Linked DNA regions of Homo sapiens. The protein of the gene in region 1 purifies or fractionates together with the protein of each later gene. This does not show direct contact. Each region holds a gene or a part of one and is shown in the gene's direction. Other genes may lie near its edges.

Evidence for each region.
Region 2: the proteins of RWDD1 (region 1) and DNAJC2 purify together in Homo sapiens (affinity purification with mass spectrometry; one large-scale study listed by BioGRID). This does not show direct contact.

Annotation. Positions count from the first base shown.
Region 1 is NC_000006.12:116,588,416-116,592,243, forward strand, and holds part of RWDD1 (RWD domain-containing protein 1), read left to right. Parts: intron 1-426; coding exon 427-570; intron 571-1,856; coding exon 1,857-1,989; intron 1,990-2,472; coding exon 2,473-2,535; intron 2,536-3,828. UniProt on the Homo sapiens protein: Protects DRG2 from proteolytic degradation.
Region 2 is NC_000007.14:103,313,526-103,317,353, reverse strand, and holds part of DNAJC2 (dnaJ homolog subfamily C member 2), read left to right. Parts: intron 1-339; coding exon 340-524; intron 525-1,265; coding exon 1,266-1,366; intron 1,367-1,482; coding exon 1,483-1,590; intron 1,591-2,667; exon of another isoform or gene 2,668-3,828. UniProt on the Homo sapiens protein: Acts both as a chaperone in the cytosol and as a chromatin regulator in the nucleus.

The DNA of each region.
Region 1 (3,828 bases):
TAAAGAAAAAAAGGTTGATATAGATAAACTACAGTATTTCTTACATTCTTTATTATTATATTATTTTAGAAATCACTCTGGCCTCAATGCAGTTCATTGTCACAGCTCTTAAAATAGAAAGAACTAAAATACTGAAAACATGCTGGAGAAAGGATGTTACTAGTTACTATAGGAAACAGTTTTCTGAATTTTTACCTATATGATTATTAAACAGAATTTGCTGAAACACAGTATCTGTTTCAGGTTGGATATGGCACATTTACACGACTTTTTAAATAAGATATTATTATTTATATATATGCTTACTTAAATGATCTTTTATTGAACTGTATGAACATAGAATATAACCAAATTAGTAATTATTATAAATGTATGGACTTTTATTTTTCTGAGAGTTATTCCTCATCACCTTTTTGTGTTACACAGGCTGAAGAAAATCTTGGTATGGTGATGATTTTTACTCTAGTGACAGCTGTGCAAGAAAAATTAAATGAAATAGTAGATCAGATAAAAACTAGAAGAGAAGAAGAAAAGAAACAAAAAGAAAAAGAAGCAGAAGAAGCTGAAAAGGTATATTTAAAAGCCTTGTTTTCTTTTATTATTTCTTAAATCAGTTTTCAGTTGCTTGGTTGGGTTTTTTTTTAATCAATAGCAGTATTTTTTTTGGAAATCACAAAAATAAATAAAAGTAAATTTTAGTAAAGTTTCACTAAAATTGTAGAAGTCCCTCATTTGGTTGGTGGCATAGCATGAGTAATGAATGATAATCAGTAAAAAGTTAGTAAAACTCATGCAGATAAGACCAAGAAGTATAAAGATTTCACCTATGATATAGAGCCAGGGGTGTCCAATTTTTTGGCTTCCCTGAGCCACATTGGAAGAAGAAGAATTGTCTTGGGCCATACATAAAATACACTAACAATAGCTGATGAGCTAAAAAAAATTTGCAGCAAAAAAACATGTTTTAAGACAGTTTACGAATTTGTGTTGGGCCACATTCAAAGCTGTCCTGGGCTGCATGTGGCTCTCAGGCTATGGGTTGGACAAGCTTGATATAGAGTTTAGAATTATAAATCCCCTATACTACAGTGAATTAAATAGTTACTACATGTAAAGAAAACCTCATATTTTGAAATGAAGTGATAAAGCAATGATTTAGTATTAGAAATTGATGTGTATTCAAAACATATCAGTTTTGACAGTGTATTAGTTCGTTTTCATGCTGTTGATAAAGACATACCCAAAACTGGGAACAAAAAGGGGTTTAATTGGACTTAGAGTTCCACATAGCTGGGAAGGCCTCAGAATCATGGTGGGAGGTGAAAGGCACTTCTTACATGGCAGCGGCAAGAGAAAAATGAGGAAGAAGCAAAAGCAGAAACCCCTGATAAACCCATCAGATCTTGTGAGATTTATTCACTATCATGAGAATAGCATGGGAAAGACAGGCCACCATGATTCAGTTACCTCCCCCTGGGTCCCTCCTACAGCACATGGGAATTCTGGGAGATACAATTCAAGTTGAGATTTGGGTGGGGACACAGCCAAACCATATCAGACAGCAACAACTTTCTTCTTAACAATGAATAGCTATGGTGGTAAATACAGTGAATACAATGCATATTATCTTTGTTTCTTGTAATAAGAATAAAAAATGGACTACTCCAAAGTATGTTGCCAAAACCAGTGAGAGTAGCCAGTGCAGGCAGAAATCAGTTTAAATATTTCAAAAATTCAAACATTAATTTTTCTGTTTTTCTTATAAGGGGTTATATTGATATGTTTAAAAGATACTGTTAGGATTTATTAAACTGCTGTTTCATTAATCTGGTGACTTTTTTTTTTTATTTCCTAAGCAATTATTCCATGGTACTCCAGTTACAATTGAGAATTTCTTAAATTGGAAAGCCAAGTTTGATGCAGAACTCTTGGAAATTAAAAAGAAAAGGATGAAAGAAGAAGAACAAGCAGGAAAAAATAAATTAAGTGGTATGATTCCCCTGCCATTCCTGTTCTTCCTAAACCCTCCTGTATCATTTTTTATATAGCAAGAGGATCATTTGGTCAGATTTCTGTAAGAAAATAATATACATAGGCATCTAGGACAAAAAGAGAAAACATATCTACCAGATGATGTTTCTCCACTCATAATTTGTAATTAATTTTTATGGCTTATCTTTGATATAAGTATTATAATTACTAGATCCTGTGATAGAAGGACATTCAGGATCATGTCTTAGAAGTAGTAGAGTCAAACCCATTTGTTTTTCTAGTACCCCAAGGCAGACTGGGTTTTCACTTGTTCCATTTTAATGCAGATACATTTCATATGCCACTTAGCTACTGAATAAATTCAGAAATTTATTGAAATTCACAGAAAAAGAGGTTTTCAAATTTGCTTTCTAAGTATTGTAGTGAAAATGGAGAAAAACTATGCCATTTGAATTAAACATACTTTTTTTTTTTTTTTAGGGAAACAACTATTTGAAACAGATCATAATCTTGACACATCTGATATCCAGTTCTTGGAGGATGGTAAGATAATAGTAGAATTCCACATGTGGGACAGGCACAGTAGCTCAAACCTGTAATCCCAGCATTTTGGAAAGCCAAGGCAGGAGGATTGCTTGAGCCCAGGAGTTTGAGACCAGACTGGGCAACATAGTGAGACCCTGACTCTATTAAAAAAAAAAAAAAGAATTCCACATGTATATAATGTAGTCTCTTTAATTTTGAACCATGAAAATCAAACTGAACTTTATTTATTGTACATTTTTCCTCCCAAGGCTGTTAAAAAATACATTTTGGAGAATAAATTCTAGTGGTTGACTAATTTATACATTTGAAATTAATGTTGTAATTCTATAGCAACATATATTTTAAATTTTTTGGTAACTTAAGCAATATCAAAGATAGAAGTAGACAATGATGATCACACCAGCCTCTCACAACTAGTAAACCAGGTTATTGTGACTCAGGTGACCTGTTTTCTTCAAATTTCTAGTATCATAAATCTGTGAAAACTATTCTATGGACTGTCATGGAGCTTGTAAAAACCTCATGTTTAACTCCTAGCATCCCCTCTCACCAGACTTTCATATGACTCTTGCTGTATTTGGAGCATCTAGTCCCTTGTGCTTTTCTTCTACCACCTATACTCTTCCATCTATCCATCATCGATTCATTCAGAAATATTGATTGCACTGTCCTGGCCACTGAGGATACAGAAGAGTACAGTATGGGCCAGTTCTCTCCCCTCGGGAGCTTATGGCCTACATGTGTTTTCTTAAACTGGGCTCCATACTCAGTCACACCTTTGATAGCACTCTAGAGTTCCGTACTTCATTAACCTTTTGTTGTATCTGTCTTGCCAGTTGGGAATCCTTTAGCTTCTGGCCTTTCAGCCTTGTTCTGGATTACCTGCTGAAGAAGGTTAAGAAGCAGTATTGATATAGCTTACTGCTAAATGCTTTCTAATCTAAGCTAGGCCTTTACTGATAGGCAACATTTTAAAGTTTTTGATACCTTTTCCTTTTCTGATTTCAATGTTTTGTCATTTTCACCTGGATTTTTGTGGTAGTTTCTTAAATTATTTCCCTAAACCTCTTCCTCCTCCTAGTGCCATTACCTATTCTATAGTCACTCCCTATGAGATGGTATTCCTAAAACCCATATTTAATCATACAATTTCTCTCCTTAAAATCCTTTGATGGTTTCCACTGCTTATAGGGAGAGAATGACCTACACAATCTTTCTCAAATCTGGCCCTCATCTACGTTACTTTCAGGTATTTTTTCTCAGGAATTTCATCTTCCAGTTAGAATTATT
Region 2 (3,828 bases), on another chromosome or scaffold:
AATATGAGTTTGAAGAGAGGTTTGAAATGGCCTTGTGGATGAATAACTCAGTGACCCACAGACTTGTCAATTAGTGTCCAAGGCTAATGGAAGTCACATGACATGAGTACTGGGAAAATCAGGCAGGCTGTGGGCAGTTCTTGGTCCCTCAGGCAGACCTATGCAGACTGGAAGCCAGAGTGAAAAGCTGGTGCTTCTTTTTGGGTTGGCCTGAGAGGAGTATGGGGTCAGAGTGAGAATGACATTGAGAGTTGAGGACCACAAAGCCCTAGCCAGGAAGAGAGTGTAGAATAGCAATACAGTATACTTCTAAGTCCCTGACTTATGATATTTGTGCAGATAGAAGAAATAAATGAGCAAATCAGAAAAGAGAAAGAGGAAGCTGAGGCTCGTATGCGACAAGCATCTAAGAACACAGAGAAATCAACTGGTGGAGGTGGAAATGGAAGTAAAAATTGGTCAGAAGATGATCTACAATTACTAATTAAAGCTGTGAATCTGTTCCCTGCTGGAACAAATTCAAGGTACTGGTTTTAATGAAACTTTTCTTCAACTCACACTGGAGCCTGGAGATAATGTAGACAGACTCCAAATAGCAGCACTTGTTATCACAGAAACTTGCAGAGATAAATTCTGTGCCACAGCAGAAAAGTGTGAAAAGTGAGGTGCATTTTGAAGCTGTCAGTCTTACCCATTGCATCAGTACACATGCACATATACATATGACAGAATACTTGTTTCTCAGGAAATTGAAGATCATGAGACAAGTCTTGATTTATGTTGGCTTACTCTGTCATGGCTTGTTCTAGGGATTAGGTTTTCTGTAGTTTTTCTTTTACAGTCTTGCTCTTTGTTTTTTCCCACCTCAAGCTGGAGCTTGAGTTTAACTGCAAGAAAGCCCTAGAGATCCAGCGTCCCTAATTCTATAGATGAAACCGAGGCTGTTTTCAGAATGATTGATCTTCTGAAGAAATGTATTAAACTGGCAGTATACACAAATAAGTGGTTTTATTTATGTTGATTTGTACACCAAATCTGTAAGATGTATGGACTTAAAACCAAGATTATCGTTGATTTAAACACATGAAAAGCAAAAACCGTAGTCCAGGCAACAGGAATTTATAGTAGCAGCATAATTAGACCACCAATCTGAGCTCATTCTGTACATACTATAACCTTTCTGCAGTAAAAATCTAATGGTTTTTGTCGTTTCATTTTGTTTTTCCTTACTACTATTCATATTATTGTATAATATATCCTATCAGATGGGAAGTTATTGCTAATTACATGAACATACATTCTTCCTCTGGAGTCAAAAGAACTGCCAAAGATGTTATTGGCAAAGCAAAGAGTCTCCAAAAACTTGGTGAGTTTTGAGAAGTCCATTTGTTACTTTAAACACCTATTTTTAAAATAACTTATGCAATTTAATGAAAGATTAAATGATGATCTGTTAAGTATTAAATTTTTTTCATTTCTCAGACCCTCATCAAAAAGATGACATAAATAAAAAGGCATTTGATAAGTTCAAAAAAGAACATGGAGTGGTACCTCAAGCAGACAACGCAACGCCTTCAGAACGATTTGAAGGTAAATTTTGCTTTTCTAAACGTAGAAAATGCTAGCCATGTATCTGTGCTGCTTGGACGTACAAGACTTAGGGTCTATGTTCAGAATGATAGGGAAATAAAATGTTTAGCAGACTGGAAGCTGTAAGCAAACATTTCCAGGGCAAAGATTTACTTCACCTAACCATTAAAAATGGAGAATTGCAGTTGTTCCATTTCAGATGCCATTAGAGAAGGGGGCTGTTTGTTTTGCTTACCAGGTTTTACAAAACAGTGTTAGAGGATATTATTGGGACTAAAGAATAGTGTTATATCGGGATAATTGCTTGATTTTGAGAAATGTACTGTAATTATATAAGAAAATGTCCTTATGTTTAAGGAAAAACACAGAAGTGTTAAGGAATAAAGAGGCATCATGTCTGTAACTTATGGTTCAAAGTATGTCTGTACATATAGGTAAAAATAATTAGCAAATATGAAAATGTTCACATTTGGGGAATGTAGGCAGAGTATACAGGGATTCTTTCTACTCCTCTAAAATTATTTCAAAATAAAATGTTAAAAATTGTTAGGGTTCAAAACCAGGAAACATAGTAAGACTCAAAAAAAAAAAAAATGTTAGGGTTTGATATTATCTTGGGTGTTGTGATTACTCTAGACCAATGCTTTTCATGTTACAAATCATGACCCATCACTGGGTCATGAAGTCAATTTAGTGTGTTGAATAGAAAATGAGTGTTACACCCATTATATGGGTGGGTATACTTGTGAAACTCTTGATCACGTGTGTCTTTGTTTAGGATGTGATATAAATTTTTTTCTTGCTATGACAAGGTTTGAAAGCAGTTTATGTGGAAAAAGTTCTTTCACTTCATGTTTTGTGAGCCACCAATCCTTTCTTAAACTAATCGCAGAAAGATGCTTTTGGATTAATAGACTTGACTATACATAAGCTGTTTCTTTCTTCTAAGAGTCCCAGTTTTACCTATATTCTTTAATCTTGCTTATTATCCCAAAATTTCAACTTAAAGATATGAGACTTACAGTGTTAATATAGGGGAGGAAAATCATTGCAAAAATCAGCAGTGACTTGTTTGGCTGAGTTAGGCATTATTTCGGTTCTTTTAATAAAGGTAAGTAACAAGGCAGGGTTTCAGAACACCTGAAAGACACTTCTTTATAAAGGAGTTTATTCTCCTGCACCTTTATCTCCACAAAATACAACAGGTATTAGCACACTAGTCTCAGCTCTTTCTTAGGGGGACTTGTTTCCATGTTGGAGGGAGGTGGGCCCTGATATTTGTCCAGTCTGCTTTCTGTGAGGAGAGGTGACCCTGTGAAGGCAAGAGTGACTGGCAGTAGTGCTATGTGGGTATGACTCCTTTGCCTCTTTTATGGAAATGGGAAGGCTCCTTCCTCTTCAGTTGTACCATTAAACAGCAAGCTGGCACCATTTTTTGAATAGTGATTTCTCATAGGAGTTTTGCAACAGTACGTTTAATTTATTTTGGTATTGTGAAGTAACTGGAGAACAGCAGGAAATACTGCCATGTCACTTCCATCTTTTTTCCAAGAGAGGAAATAAAATCTATGGTATTTAGGGCTTTAAACCAATACAAGGAAATTCAACAAAAGACTTCCTAGAACTTAAAAGCTACCTTCAAAAAAGCTTCTTAGGCACCTTAGGTACCATCAAATATTATACAAATTCTCTGCTTTGTTTTGAATAGGTGGTGGTTTTGTTTTGTTTTGTTTTGTTTTTCCTTCTTTAATTGGGAAGGAACTTTGGTTTCTAGGCTTAACTTTTAACAGATCTCACAGGCCGCAGTTTCTAGTAGTAGTCAGGCTACTGGTAGTATTAGTCTGTGTTGTCACTGCATAGTCTGAAATAACTAAATTGCCAGAAGTCCATTAACTTAACCAAATCAGCTTTCTACCACTTAACATTCTACTTTTACCTACACAAGTGGACTGTGTAATACTTAACATCCTTAAGAAACATATTTGTTTCTGACACACATCTTAGATGTTTTCTGAAATATACAAGGTTTAGTTGAAGAACCACAATAGCAGTTATTGGAAGTGTTCAGCATCGGCTCCCAAGATTTTAGCAGATGTGACGAAGAGAACACCACACTACAACACAATCTAATCTCAGCTTGCCTCTCCAGCACTGGTACCTTGGGCACTTGGCTTAATTTTGCTAGGTTTGTTTCCTTCAGTGTAAAACAAGAATGATTTCCAGGGTTTCTATCCAGCA